Regions from separate parts of the Homo sapiens genome. Here all the other regions are linked to region 2. The links come from fine-mapping of genetic effects on gene expression. A gene starts in region 2. Each other region holds a variant in brackets. All regions are shown on one strand. Distances are between the middles of the regions. Region 1 overlaps RABGAP1L (RAB GTPase activating protein 1 like). Region 2 holds the start of PRDX6-AS1 (PRDX6 antisense RNA 1). Region 3 overlaps PRDX6-AS1 (PRDX6 antisense RNA 1).

Region 1 (5,340 bases), 700 kb after region 2:
TGCTGGTATTTCAAAGATGGCTCAGGGGTTTCTTGTGGAGATGATCTGATGAGCATTTTGCCATTACAAACAGTGGAGGCGGAGAAAGTACGGACTTGAGCCTGAGTTATGGTAAAACATACTCATTTTTAAAGGAGAGTTTTAATGCTGATATTATAGAGAAAGACATTGTTTGACTCCTAGACTTTCAGAACGGGAAATAATTTTGACTTTATAGTCAGTATTTGAATTGGGTATAAGTATGTGAACATCAGTGGACCCTAATAAGGAAGAGTTAATGAATTAAGAAGAGCTTGCATCTCTGAACATCTTCTTTTTATACTTCGTTTACTTCCCATATTGCTCTTATTCAACAGATGGGATGGCATAATTGGGTATACGAAGTTTATGCGCATGCTAACTCTTTTTTGTTATCTTTTGGTGTTTTTTGGTGTACTTTTTGGGGATTTTCCTGGGAAAGTTCTAGGCATATATTCAGTTGATTTAGAGTTAGATTTGGGCTAAGATTATTAGTATACTTGAAATTCTGAGCCTTCTTATTTTCTAAATAGCTTTTAAAGTAGAAAACATTTGCCAGTGCTGTTGGGCTTAAAAAAAAAAAAAACCCAACAACAACACAATTCTTTATAAATACTCATGAAAAATCTGGTTACAGGCTGTGTTGTGATAGACATAGTACAGCCAAAAATATATTTAAGAAAATTCTCACCCAGTTTAGTAAGCTTAAATAAGAGGAAAATAAGACAGTTTTTTTTTTTAATAAAAGGCTGATTTTCCCAGAATATGAAGCCTAACAACTGTTTGCTGTGTTATTTTCCCTGTTGCCTGTTCTAAATTCAGCAAGAACTATGCATCCCTAGTCCATGGTAAAAGCTTAGTTCCAGTAGGTGATTCTTAGTAATGGAAGTCTCATTGAGGGATGCAAGGGAATTTGATTGGGAAACATCAGGCATGGAACATTTACTTTTTACTGCTCTAATTTTCTGTGTATCTGGGTATTCAGTGGGGTGGGAACATGAGCACAAATACTAGAATTATCTGGATTTTTTTTTTATACTATGGATTTCCTCCTCTTACCCCCTACCTGCCCCCCAACCCATTGCTAAGTGAGCCATTGATAGTAGGAGTGTGTTATATCCTTCAGGTATGTAGGGCTGAACAAATGCTAAAAACCTTGGCACTTGGCTGATATTCCATAAACCAAATTCCTGCTCTGTGTAATTTGCCTTCTGGTGATATCAGTTTGTTACTCCCATTTTTGAAGAAAAATATGAATTGTGGTGAAGAGACATCTGTAACCAAGAGTAAGATTTATCAAATTATGTAGTATACATGAAGGACACCAGGAGATTGTTTACCTGAACATTTATTAAACTCATTTGACTGTGACCCACAATAAAAAATACATTTTACTACTTGATTCCGCAAGCGCACACACACACAAAGTTGAAAGTTTGGTGAAATAATATTTATCTTTTCAGGGCCCTACTGAGTTAGCTATAATGGCTTGCAAGACCAGTTGTGCATATTTCTTCCTATCTAGCTCTTTGTCCAGTGACATCATGTTGGTAGCTCAAAATTGGTCATGGTGGGAATATTTACACCAGGAAATTCAGCAAATGGTATTCTTAGGGCTTCCCTCCTCATAGGTAGTTGTTAAACATTTATAGCACCCCACTGCTTATAACACACATTGATATATTCTGTTATTTCATTTCATTTTAAAAATGCTGGGTTTTGACTTCCAAATTAATTTTACACCCAGCTAATGGATTATAGCCTACATTTAACAACAAATACAACTAGTTTAGCCTACCCTCTTAACTTTGTAAGTGAAGGAACATACTAAGAGCCTCAAGGCCAAGGTCAGATAGTGAGTTATTAGCAAAGCCAGGGCTCTGGACTCAATCTGGAGTTGTTTCTGGTGGGCTTCTTTCCTAACCTCACTTAGTGTGTATAAGGGATTGTGTTAATCAGTTTGAATAAAGATGGACCTTGACCCTGAGGACTTTATGCTTAGGTGGGGGATTAAATATGGAAACAACAGTGATAATGAAAGGCAGAAAGTAATGGGTGGTAAAAAGATAAAGATAAGGAACTATAAGAGTTTAGAGAGGAGGGAGAGATTACTTTTATTTTTGTTTGTTTGTTTGTTTTTCGTTTTTGACCCAGGCTGGAGTACAGTGGTACAATCTCGGCTCACTGCAACCTCTGCCTCCCAGGTTCAAGTGATTCTCCTGCGTCAGCCTCCCTGAGTAGCTGGGATTACAGGCGCCAACTGCCACACCAGGCTAATTTTTGTATTTTTAGTACAGACGGGGTTTCGCCATGTTGGCCCGGCTGGTTTTGAACTTCTGACCTCAGGTGATCCATCCGCCTCAGCCTCCCAAAGTGCTGGGATTACAGGCGTGAGCCACCGTGCCCGGTCT[A/G]CTTTTAGTTTTAAGGATAAAAGAAGAGGTGACATTTGAACTACTTTTTTTTTTTTTTTTAATTTGGAGACAGCATCTCACTCCCGTTACTCAAACTGAGTGCTGTGGTGCCATCACAGCTCACTGCATCCTTGATTTCCTGGCCTCTAACAGTTCTTCTGCCTCAGCCCCCAAGTGGCTGGGACTATATAGGCACACACCAACATGCTTGGCTAATTTTTCATTACTTGTAGAGACGGGGTCTCATTATGTTGCCCAGGCTGTTCTTGAACTTCTGGACTGAAACTGTCCTCCTGCCTCGGCCTCCCAAAGTGCTGGGATTACAGTTGTGAGCCACCACGCCCGGCCCCTGAACTATGCTTTGAAGAATGGGTAGGATTTGGACATGTGGAAATAGGACAACTAGTATGAGAGAAAGGCCTTTCTGGGCCAGGGGCCAGGGTGATCAAAGGCATACAAGCATAGACAGGGAAAAATGAGTAGTGAAAGAGCTAGGCAAGAAAGAGTCCGTTAGCACCAGATGGTTAAGAGCCTAGAATGCCAGTTTTCCTTTCTGCTTTTCAGTTTATCTTTCATTTTTGACTCTGGAGTAATCTAGTACTTCTTAACATTGAACAGGATTTATATGTTATGATTAAAATATGATCCAGAGAGCACATAAGTATCCTTAGAGTAGAAGCTGAAGGGAAAAATTATTAGTGTTAGAGAAGCAACCTTGAGTTTACCAATCCTAAAAGTGTTGGAAAGTGAAAAATATTTTATTTGTAAGGAGAGACAGTGTTTTTTTTTTGTTTGTTTTTTGTTTTTCTTCATTAGCGTCAAATTGGCTGTAGTAGAACAGGAAGCAGTTTTGAAAGTCTTTACAAGGGCCTTCTAAAATGTGATTTCTAAATGACTGGATCTTAATTTTTGGAGGCAGGTTTAGTTCAGGCAGAAGGGTAGTTTATACAGATCTGCAGCTAAGCTGAGTAGCTTTTAGAATTTAGGGCAGCAAAGCAGGGTATTTTATACAAAATCCACTTGTAAGGAATTGATGGCTTCTTTATTCCAAGAATTTTCTTAGATTTCAGCATTTATGTCTTTGACAGCCTGTATGACTGAAGATGTTTTGAAGTCTTGGATGGAACTTGCCTTGTTTCACAGGGGAATTGGGTAGCTAGAAATGAAGGTATAAATGCCAGTAAGTTGTGTCTGTTAATCAAGTTGAAGTACTGGTGGCAGTTCTCAAGCTTTTCTGTCTGCTGATGATTTCACACTTACTGCTTCTAATTAAATAGTGTGTAGTCGATTTGAAGAAGCCTTGCTTCTCTTTGACCCACCAGTTCTGTAAAGGTAAAAGCCTTCTTAGAGTGTTGCCCAGGTAACAACACATACAGAGACTGCTTAATAGCTCATCATGGAAGTGTGTGGAAAATTTTGGAAATGTTGGTAAAGAAGTTGCTATAGTAAATAACTACTTGGTTGGTAAAAAGCTGGGCTACTTCTGGATAGTTGATAAAGAGTTTTTGAGATGAGCCGTGGTTCTAAAATAAATATGAATTGTGTCATTGCCACACGATTTTCTTCAGTTATGTAAGCTCCTAATATGTAAATGTTGTCCTACCATTTTAGAAGGTGTCAGCAGTTTCATGTGACCTGTTCCACAATATAGCACACCCCAAACACCACGATAAGAGTTCAAATATGGCATGGCCCAGATGCCTCACACCAGTTAAATGATAAAGCTAATCATGTCAGCACAGTGTTTCTGTTAAAGTTTTTTCCCCCTCTTTTTTGAGGCATGTTAGTTTTCACGAATTGAGGTTATTAGAATCTTTCCAGATTTTCTGCCACCATTTTTTTTGTGTGTGTGGTAAAAAGTATAATGATGGTGCCCTTAATTAAATTATGTAAACATTTGTAAAGATATACACGCATACACATAGTGTGCATATATGTATGTGTAGACATACATACATATATATTTACATATCATTAGTTCTTGGAATTTGTGGTGAAAATACACCCACCTGGCAAATGGTTGAAAACAAGTGTTCTAGCTCTTTGAAGACTACCATGTGAGTATTCACAAATATGAAAGTAATGCAAACCCAAAGGGAGTTTTTGTATGCCCAATTTCAAGAAAGGAGCACATTTTAAAAGGCAAGTATGGAATTCATTCATATACCAGTGAGGAATTTCTCAACTTCTCCTTTACCCCACACATACACCCGTTTACCATTCTCATTATTAGCAGTAAGCAAAATTAGAAGACTTTAAGAATCAGACTTCTACTACAAGTGATGCAAATAAATATTATTTTTAGAAAAAATACAAACCTGTGGTTTTGAGTTATGAAGGTTTAAGAGACACATATCACTAGTTTTTTTTATAAACTACATGGAGTGTTTTCTGTGCTTCAAGATGTCGTAATTGTCATTGTGAGGCCTTTTGCTGAGAGCATTGTATAAAGGAATAGTTGTTAGAATGGTTATTAGGTGTTTCTTTGAATAGTTTATTTTTCTGTAGTCAATTTATCTTGCATACATTGATGGCCGGGGGTGGTGGCCCACACCTGTAATCCCAGCACTTTAGGAGGCCAAGGCAGGCAGATCACTTGAGGCTAGGAGTTTGAGCCTAGCCTGGCCAAGATGGTGAAACCCCACCTCTGCTAAAAATACAAAAATTAGCCGAATGTGGTGGTGTGTGCCTGTAGTCCCAGCTACTTGGGAGGCTGAGGCACAAGAATCCCTTGAACCTGGGAGATGGAGGTTGCAGTGAGCCAAGATCGTGCCACTGCACTCCAGCCTGAGCTACAGAGTGAGACTCGGTCTCAAAAAAAAAAAAAAAAAAAAAAAAAATTGAATAGAGTATACTACTTTAGTGAAAAATTGACCATTGAAAAATCAACCATTGAAGGGAGGTTATATAT
Region 2 (5,340 bases):
AATATATGACAATTAAATTTACTTTTTTTTCTTTTTACTTTTTTAATATGGCTACCATAAAATCTTAAATTACATATGTGGCTCACATCATATTTATACTGGAGAGAGTTGTACTAGAGCATGTTTGTATGCTAATATAATGATCTAGTAGAGAATCAGGAATTGATGATGTAGAAAGAGAAAGAGTAGGGAAAAGAGAAAAGACCTTTAGAGCTTAAGCAGATAAGGGGTGATGGACATCATACATAGATCAACAAACAAGTAGAGAAAGGCATGTACATAGATAATATTTGTTGTATCCTTTATACAGAAAGAACTCACTCTTTTTAAACAGCCATGAAGCAGTAATAAACATTTATCAAGGACTAAGTCACAAATAAAATCTCAAATATCTAAAGGTACAGATCACATGGTAATCAAACAAGAAATCAGTATGAAAAAGACAGCAAACTCAATCTAATTACATGGACATTATAAAACAGTTTTCTAAACAACTCTTGGATTAAAGTGGAAATCAGTACTAGAACACAGACTGTTTGAAATTACCAATGAAACAACACTCCATTTCAAAGCTTATGGGATACAACCAAAGTCTTAACTCAAAGGAAAATTCAGAGCTTTCAGTGATCTTCTTAATATATACGGAAGATTGAAAGTAAATGATCTAAGCACCCAGTTCAAGAAAGTTTAAAAAAATTAAAAAAAAAAAAATAAGCCAACAGAGAATAGGAGAAACTAATAAAAATAAAATTCAAAATTAATGAACTAGAAAGCATGGCAAAACAAAATTGCATAGACCTGGTAAATAAAGCAATTGTTTTATTTTGTTTTTGTTTTTAGAATACAACATACAAACCATTAATAAGTGTGAACAAGAAAAAAAGAGAAAGAAAATGCAAATATCTACAACAAGGAAAGAAAAATAATTCAGCATTAAGAGATTTTTAAAATTCTAAAATTCCAAATACCCACCAGTAAATTAGAAAATCTACATGAAATAGACAAATTTTTAGCAAAATGCAGATTACTAATATTAGCTCATGAAGAGAGGAAATTATCCCAATAATCAAAGAAAAACTTGAAAATGCAGCAAAAGCTCTAACTTCAAAAAAAGCACCAGTTCCAGTTTGTTTTATCAGTAAGTTCTAATACATCATAAAGAACAGATAATTCCTGGATTATTTAAACATTCGGCCAGTACAAACTATGAAAAACTTCCCAATACACTTCACTGACAAATTTAATTCTGATACTAAAGTATACTAAATACTAAACAATAGTAAAAATAAAATACATATTGGGTTATTCTTAAAATCCAAAGTCAAATATTAGCAAGTCTAATTAAGAATGCTTTTGACAGCAAGTAACAGAAACCCTGACTCCAATTATCTTTAAAAATGAGGGTATTTCTGAACTCAACAGAAATCTAGAAGTAGGATAAGTTTTAGGATGGGTTGTGGTTTAATTACGTTATTAAGAACCCAGGGGAGGGGGGCCAAGTTGGCCAATTAGAAGCAGCAGCTGTCTGTGGCACTCAGGGAGAGGAAGAAAGGAGCAAGTGAATATAGCACCTTCAACTGAAATATCCAGGCACTCACACTGGGACTGATCACAGAAACAACTCGACCCATGGAGAAGAGAGAAAAGCAAGGTGGGGCAATAGCCCACCTGGGAGCAACATGAAGCCAAGAGAACTCCCACCCCCAGCCAAGGGAAGCAGTGAGTGAGTGTGCAACCCCAGGAAACCACGCTTCTCCCACGGATCTTTGCAACCCACAGATCAGGAGATCAGTGCACCCACACCACCTTGTGCACCCACATCACCAGGGTCTTGGGTCCCACACACAGAGGTGTGTTGAGTCTCAGCAGAGCAGCTGCTCAGGCATGCATAGAGATCCAGGAACTTTACATATTCCGGCCCCAGGATCCCCAACAGAGGTGTCTGTAACTCAGGCAAGGTGGGAGGTCTGTACATACCCCTAGGAAGGGGGCTGAATCCAGGGAGCCAAGCAGCATCAATCTGTGGGTCCCACTTCCACAACACCTCACAAAATAAGACCTACTGGCTTGGAATATAGCCTACCTGTGATGGGACAGAGTCCCCAGTGGGAGGGGTGGGCTGCCATCTCTACTGTTTGGTTGACTCAGCCATTTCAGTCTATGGGCTTCGGAGAATCCATATGGTTCAAACAAGGAAGGGTCTTCCCAGAACACTACAGCGGCATTGCCTGAACGTGGCCAGGTTGCTTCTTTAAGTGGGGCCCCAATCCATTCCTCTTCACTGGGAGGGACCTCCCAACCGGGGCCTCCAGCCATCTCTGCCTGTATTCCACAAACGGATCCTGATCTCTTTCTGGAATAGCATGCCCGAGGGGAGGCGAGGAGGGAAGGAGGAGGGGAGGGGAGGAGGGGAGGAAAGGAGGGCCACCAAGCTGGCTGTTTGAATGACTCAGCCATTCCAACCAGTGGGCTTTAGAGAGTCCAAGCCAACAAGGGCAGAAGCAGTTTCCCAGCACAACAAGGCTGTTCTATTGAGGCATGGCCAGATGGCTTCTTTAAGTGGGACCCTGATCCACTTTTCCTTGACGGGTAGATCATGCCAGCTGGGGTATCCAGCCACCCCCGCCCATGTTCTGTGGCCAACAGACTTCTAATTTTTCCCTGGGACAGAGTGCCCAGAGGGGAAGGCGGGCCACCAACTTGGCTGTTGGGCACCTCAGCCAGTTCAGCCTGTGGGCCTCGGAGAGCCCAAACCAACAAGGGGCTGATGGGATCCCCAACACAGCACAACTGCTCTATCAAAAACAGCCCAACTGCTTCTTTAAGTGGATCCCTGATCCCGTTCCTCCTGACTAGGTGAGATGTCCCAACTGGGGTCTCCAGCCACCCCCTACATACTGTGTGCTCATGCTGGCAACAGGACAGTACCGCCCTGGGATGGAGCTTCCAGGGGAAGGGGCAGGCTGCCATCTTTGCTGTTTCATAGCATTCACTGCTGATACCTCCAAGTACAGGAAAAACTGAGGCAACCAGGGTGTAGAGTGGACCCCCAGCTAACTGCAGCATCTGTAAGGAAGAGTAAACAGACTGCTAAAAGAAAAAGATGAAAAAACAAAACAATCCATGAAAGCGCCATCCAAAGGTCAGCAACCTCAAAGATCGAAGATAGATAAGCCCACAAAAATGAGAAAGAATCAACGCAAAAATCTTGAAAATTCAAAAACCCAGAGAGCCCCTTTTCCTCCAAATGATCACAACACCTCTCCAGCAAGGGCTCAGAACTAGGCTGAGCCCAAGATGACAGAAGTAAGCTTCAGAATGTGGACAAAAGCCAATTTTGCTGAGCTAAAGGTGTATGTCCTAACCAAAGGCAAAGAAGCTAAGAATCATGATAAAACAATGCAGGAGCTGACAGCCAAAACAGCCAGTATAGAAAGGACCATAACCGACCTCACAGAGCTGAAAAACATACTACAAGTACTCGCAATGTAATCCCAAGTATTAATAGCAGAATAGACCAAGCAGAGCAAAGAATCCCAGAGCTTGCAGACTATCTCTCTGAAATAGGACAGGTAGACAGGAATAGAGAAAAAAGAATGAAAATGAATGAATAAAACCTCTGAGAAATATGGGTTTATGTAAAAGGACCAAACCTACAACTGATTGGGGTACCTGAAAGAGACAGGAAGAATAGAACCAAGTTGGAAAACATACTTCAGGATATCATCCAGGAGAATGACCCCAACCTAGCAAGATAGGCCAACATTCAAATTCAGGAACAAGAGAACCCCAGTAAGATAACTATTCAAGAAAATCATCCCTAAGATATGTATCAGCAGATTCTCCAAAGTCAAAATGAAAGAAAAAATGTTGGCTGGGCACAGTGGCTCATGCCTGTAATCCCAGCACTTTGGGAGGCCAAGGTGGGTGGATTACTTGAGGTCAGGAGTTCAAGACCAGCCTGGCCAACGTGGTGAAACCCTGTCTCTACTAAAAATACAAAAATTAGCCAGGTGTGGTGGCACATACCTTTAGTCCCAGCTACTCAGGCTACTCAAGAGGCTGAGGCAGGAGATTTGCTTGAACCCAGGAGACAGAGGTTGCATTGAGCTGAGATCGTGCCACTGCACTCCAGCCTGGGTGACACAGTGAAACTCCATCTGAAAAAAAAAAGAAAAAAGAAAAAAATGTTAAGGACAGCCAGAAAGAAAGACCAGGTCACCTACAAAGGGAAGGCCATCGGACAAGCATTGGGCCTCTGAGTGGAAACCCTACAAGCCAGAAAAGATTGGGGGCCAGTATTCAATATTCCTAAAGAAAAGAATTTCCAACCCAGAATTTCATATGCAAACTAAGTTTCATAAGCAAAGGAGAAATAAGATCCTTTTCAGACAAACAAATGCTGAGGAAATTCATCACTACCAGACCTGCCTTACAAGAGCTCCTGAAGGAAGCACTAAATATAGAAAGGAAAAACCATTACCACTACAAAAACACACTGACATACCAATGATACAATGAAGTATCCACATAAACCTGCAAAATAACCAGCCAGCATCATGATGACAGGATCAAATCCACACATAAAAATGCTAATCTTAAATGAAAATGTGCTAAATGCCTCCCAAAAAAAGATACAGAATAACAAGCTAGATAAAGAGCCAAGACCCATTAGTATGCTATCTTCAAGAGACGCATCTCACGTGCAAAGACACACATAGGCTCAAAATAAAGGGATAGAGGAAAATTTACCAAGCAAATGGAAAACAGAAAAAAACAGGTGCAATCCTAGTTTATAACAAAACAGACTTTAAATCAACAAAAATCAAAAAAGATAAAGAAGGCCACTACATAACAGTAAAGGGTTCATTTCAACAAGAAGAGCTAACTAACCTAAGTATATATACACCCAATACAGGAGCACCCAGAAAAAGAAAGTACTTAGAGACCTTCAAAGAGACTTAGACTCACACACAATAATGGTGGGAGACTTTATCACCCCACTGACAATATTAGGCAGATCATTGAGACAGAAAATTATCAAAGACATTCAAGACCTCAACTCAGCTCTGGATCAAGTGGGCCTGATAGCTATATACAGAACTCTCCACTCCAAAACAACAGAATATACATTCTTCTCATCGCCACAGCACTTACTCTAAAATTGATCACATAATTGGAAGTAAAACACTCCTTGGCAAATGCAAAAGAACTGAAAACATACCAAAGAGTCTCTCAGACCAAGGTGTAATCAAATTAGAACACAAGATTAAGAAATTCACTCAAAACCATATAACTACATGGAAAATGAACAATCTGCTCCCGAATGACTTTTGGTTA
Region 3 (5,000 bases), 43 kb before region 2:
TCTTTTTTAGTATGCTTGATATTTACTGAGAAGAATGCAAATGCTCTTTCTAACTGGTATTCAGGAGCTGGGTTGAGGGCCTGTTTTTGTTTGTCTGTTTTGTTCATAGTATTTTTGCCTAAATGTGCGTATCTGTGGGACTGATGAAATTATGAAAGAAAAATGACAGCTGTGCAAAACTGGTGCATGGAAGAAAAGGAATGTCATGATGTGGGACTGCCAGGTCCACCGGGCCTCTGCAGCAAACCGATGGGGCAGGGAGTAGGTTGGGAGCCAACCAGGCCAGAAGATTGGCTCCTTTGGGAGTTGGTGAGCTGTCCAAATCAATGCCCAGGGAGGTAGAGCCAACCCAGGCTCTCCTAGGTTGGTCCTTGTCTCTAAAGGCAGGGTCTGTCGGTGAGATGTGGTGGGTGGTGATAGTGTAGCTCTCTGGGCACATGTAGGCTAAGCAGTGGCAGCAGCTGGGCTGTGGGTGGTCTGCCCAATATGTCACAGATCTCTGGCCTACAGCTGGGGCTCAGAACATGGTCCAAATTTGCAAAGGAGACATCCTGGGCTGGCCTGAGTAGGCAGCAGCGTGGCTTAAAGCAAGTCCCCTGCCCAGAGGCAGGCAAATGGAGCATCTTCCTGAACAAAGACAAGCACTACAGAGGGATGACGGAGAGAACCAGAGGGCAGAGGAGAGGGAAGGGGACCAAAGGGGCACCTGTGGAGGGTGGGCAGTGGCAGCTTACAGGGCCCTCCCCAACAGGGCCCAAGGGTCTCCCAGCCCAGTAACAATATCTTCATTATCATCCTGGCCAAAACATTGCTTCCTTTCACTGAGGACATTATAAATGTTATTTTTTTATTTTTATTTATTTATTTATTTATTTATTTTTTGAGAGAGAGAGAGAAGATCTCACTCTGTTGCCCAGGCTGGAGTGCAGTGATGTCATTTTGGCTCACTGCAACCTCAGCCTCCTGAATTGCTGGGACCACAGATGTGCGCCAGCATGCCCGGCTAATTTTTGTATTTTTAGTAGAGACAGGGTTTCGCCATGTTGCCTAGGCTGATCTCAAACTCCTGGACTCAAGCGATCCACCCGCCTCGGCCTCCCAAAGTGCTGGGATTACAGTTGTGAGCCATTGTGGCCGGCCACAAATGTTATTTTTAAAGCACACACACATTCCTGGTGGAAGGTAAGTATCCTCAGCACCCATTTCCTGAAACGTCTTTTAATCATCACAATATGGAGATTGTATTATTATCTCTATTTTAAAGACAGGGCAGTATTTTCCTGGGGCAGTATTTCCCAAATTGTGTCCCACGGAATGCTAATAACAGTACTAAGAGGTAAGTGGTGCTCACTTTTGAAAATGCTCCTATAGCCAAATATTTTTGAGAAATAATGCAGAGGAATGGTGCATTTGTGAGCATAGACCCAGGAGTCAGAGACACCTCGGTTTGGGGCCGAGCCCCACTGATTATCAGCTTTGCGGGTGCAGCAATAATAATCCTAGCTTCCTTATCTGGGATGTGGGAATAATGAAATACCCGCTTCATAAGGTTCGTGTGAGGGTTGATGTTATGAGGTAACAAATGTAAAGCTCTTAGCACATAGCTGGTGCAAAAAAAGTCTTCAATAAACAAGAACTCTTATTGGCATTGTAGCAGGTTAAATATTGTTAACATCTTACAGCTAGACCTATAATTTTTTTAGGGAGAGATCAATTTTGTTTAGGAAAACATCTTAATAAACCACGTGGAAGCGTGGCCAGCAATGAGACTCTGAAGTTACAAGCCATCAATAACCAAGACCAAAACCTAGAAAACCAAGTTTGAAAAAGCCAGAGTCCCATAGAGGGTGAGTACTGATTTCTCTCATTGCCTGACATTATAACAAAGAGGTTCAGGGCACAAAGATGAGATCTCACCTCCGTCTTCACCTCCCTCTTTTTAGTACTACTCCATCCTTTACAGATTCACCTACACACACTCACACATGCACACACACCACTCCCTTTTCAGGAAGAAAGCTACAGGCTCCAGTTAATTAGAAATTCTACTATTTCAGCTTTATTACTTCCTCTTTACTCTCTGAACTTTAAAGGAACACATTTCTGTAAAGTTTAAATTATTTCAATGAGGTGTATTACCTTTTTAACTGGGGGTGGGAGGGAAGCACTTTTTTTTTCTTTTTTTTTTTTTTAATGTTGAAGACTCCACTCAGTCATTTGAGCTCCAGGAAGCCTTCCCTGGCCACCCATAAGTTAAGAGAAGAGCCCCTCTTCTGAGCTCCCAGAGCACCCACTTCATACCTATGCTATAGAACACACCGCCAAGGACGGAAATTATCCAAAGGTTTGTGTCCATTGATTGCCATGCCAGGCATCCAGCTCTGCTGAAGCACGCAGGGGCCCTGACTTCCTCATTAGGTATTCTCAACACCTCCACCAGCAGCTGGTAGGCAGCAGAGCTATTGTTACTGAGCTGCCCACGGCACCAATGGATCTATGAATGAACCTGAACGTCTTCCCTGGAGAAAAGCACTTGCTTGTCAAGGGAGGAACAGGGGTCTGAAATGCTAACCCCTGCCCTATAGTATGGGTGTGCATACGGTGCACCTTCCAAAGCCCAGAGTGGCATTCTTATTACATCCCGGAAACCCCCTGGTCAGGGGCTTTTGGGGTGACATCCAATATGTAAATACCAGGGTCGGGTCCTGCTGAGTGGCATAACAGTGCCATATGTGAAAGTTCCACCAGCAGCAGAGGGCTCTTTCATTAGTCATTTCACTGCACACAGCTGTAAGGAATCTGGCGAAGCTTGATTTGGCTGGGAGGAGTGCATTTTCCACTTGTAGGCGTCTTGAAAACTTTCATAC[TA/T]AAAAAAAAAAAAAAATTAACAACAAGAAAATCATCATAGTCCAAAATGAGAAGCCAGAAATTGAAGGTGGAGAGCCAGGGTAGCAAACATAATGGAGGGACTCCAAGACCGGGCTTCCACCAGGACCCTACACTGACTCACAGATGTGTAATGGTCATGGCGAGCCTTACATGTAAACAGAGATCCCAACATGTCCCAGAGGTAGTGGCTGTGGAAGCCTGGGCAGATGCCAGGCAGTATTCTAAGGTTAAGCATTGCTATGGTTTGAATGTGACCCCCAAATTTCATGTGCTGGAAACTTAATTCCCAAATTCACATATCGATGACATTTGGAGGTAGGGCCTTTGAGAGGTAATTAAGATTAAATAAGGCCATGAGTGTGTGGCCCCCACGGTGGGGCTGGTGGCTTTATAAGAAGAGTTAGAGTAACCTGGCCGGGTGCTGTGGCTCACGCCTGTAATCCCAGCACTTTGGGAGGCCAAGGCGGGCAGATCACGAGGTCAGGAGATCGAGACCATCCTGGCTAACACGGTGAAACCCCATCTCTACCAAAAAAATACAAAAAAATTAGCCGGGTGTGGTGGCGGGCACCTGTAGTCCCAGCTACTTGGGAGGCTGAGGCAGGAGAGTGGCCTGAACCTGGGAGGCGGAGCTTGCAGGGAGCTGAGATCACACCACTGCACTCCAGCCTGGGTGACAGAGCAAGACTCCGTCTCAGAAAAAAAAAAAAAAAAGAAGAGTTAGAGTAACCCAAGCGGACAAGCCTGCTCTTGCCCACTTGCCATGTGATGCCCTCTGCCACGTGAGGATGCAGCAAGAAGGCCTTCACCAAATGCCAGCACCATGTGCTTGGACTTCCCAGCCTCCAGAACTATAAGCAATAAATTTCTTGTCTTTATAAATGATCCAGTCTGTAGAATTCTGTTACAGCAATGGACTAAGACAGGCATGATTTGGGGTACAGAGAAGGAAAACTGAGAGGTCACAGAAGAGAGAGGAGGGTGGAAGCTGGGGGAGAGGCACTGATGGAACCAGCTTCCACCCTTCCCTGCAGGGCTTGGAAAGACCCATGAGGACACAAGGGAGAATAAAAGGAAGCAGCCCTGATTGCCATGGCTGGGTCAGGGTCAGGAGGCTAGGACTGCTTTATGTCCCTGCTATAATGGACTTATGGGTTTTTTAAGATTTTTTAAAATAGATTAACTATAGCTCCTAGAGCTGACTCTACTGATAACTTTACCCTGGACTCCCTCCCTGATTTTGACCTTAGTTTGTGTGGCGGGGGGGGGGATGAGAGGCTGCGGTCCAAATGGAATGCAGTTTGCCTGTCCTCTATCAGCATCAATGCATCACCTTTCCCCCGATTTTTACCTCATGATATATTTATGCATTTAACGCATGTTTATTGAGTGAGCTGCATGCAGCAAAATGCACGTAAAAAGCAATTTTTTTTCTTTTTTCTTTGTCCTTTCAACTCCTCTCTCTGGATTTGCCTTGTCCCTGCACTTGAGATGAAAGCTAACCAATACCACGGATTTTCTAGCCACTCTGAGCCATTAAATAAAGAGGCTCTTTAAAACAAACAAACAAAAAAAAAAGTAAAAAACAGTCTACTCAACCTGAAGCTTCTCCCCTCTCAGACTCCTTCACTTCAGGTTTGGAAACTCGGTACCAAGGAGGAAGGCATGGACTTCACCATTTTCTCTCCTCCACCTCTCGTAGCCAGCTGCTAATTCTCAAGCCTCAAGCTGTGAGAGATTGAGAACTGAGGGAAAGGACACAGTACTTGACGGCTCTTACTGTCATGACGCGGCCTTGGTGCCCTCTGGGTTTAGCATGTTTTCCAACGCTTTCCTTTCCAGCCTCACTTAGGCACATTGCAGTTAAAGAATATGGCCACCAGGTGGCAGTAAAGGCCTTTTTTTTTCCTGGCCAGTAGACCCTACCCTCCGGTTTTATATGGCTACATAATTTCTTTAAGATGATGTCAAATATGCTTTCCCTACATTTCAAAAGAAAAGAAAGTAAACACTTAAAACCACAAACTGGTCAACTTAGCAAAAACTAAATATAATTTAAAGATGATGCCCTAGGGAATAAACGTGTAAAGAAAACCTCCCAAGTTGTTAAT

The links. PIP is the estimated chance that this variant, and not a neighbour inherited with it, causes the effect.
Region 1: its variant is fine-mapped to the expression of PRDX6-AS1 in whole blood (TOPMed, PIP 0.99).
Region 3: its variant is fine-mapped to the expression of PRDX6-AS1 in whole blood (INTERVAL, PIP above 0.99). The same link has a PIP of 0.9 or more in skeletal muscle.

What each region holds. Positions count from the first base shown.
Region 1 is chr1:174,163,022-174,168,361 of GRCh38, forward strand. The region is part of intron 1 of RABGAP1L (RAB GTPase activating protein 1 like); the gene reads left to right. Among named protein-coding and RNA genes, the nearest start is that of RABGAP1L, 6.2 kb to the left of the region's middle. The variant A/G (reference allele first, on the strand shown) is at 2,430.
Region 2 is chr1:173,458,295-173,463,634 of GRCh38, forward strand. It overlaps PRDX6-AS1 (PRDX6 antisense RNA 1), which reads right to left and starts at 3,068. Exons shown (of 2, transcript NR_125960.1): 1 at 2,084-3,068. LOC100506023 (a long non-coding RNA gene) reads right to left here. Exons shown (of 3, transcript NR_037845.1): 2 at 4,030-4,160. RefSeq lists an enhancer at 1,798-2,297.
Region 3 is chr1:173,415,757-173,420,756 of GRCh38, forward strand. PRDX6-AS1 (PRDX6 antisense RNA 1) reads right to left here. Exons shown (of 2, transcript NR_125960.1): 2 at 2,033-2,866. All of the region lies in intron 2 of LOC100506023 (a long non-coding RNA gene), which reads right to left. It also overlaps a transcript of TNFSF4 not described here. Among named protein-coding and RNA genes, the nearest start is that of PRDX6-AS1, 43 kb to the right of the region's middle. RefSeq lists enhancers at 408-537, 568-617, 2,426-2,765, 4,524-4,623. The variant TA/T (reference allele first, on the strand shown) is at 2,868.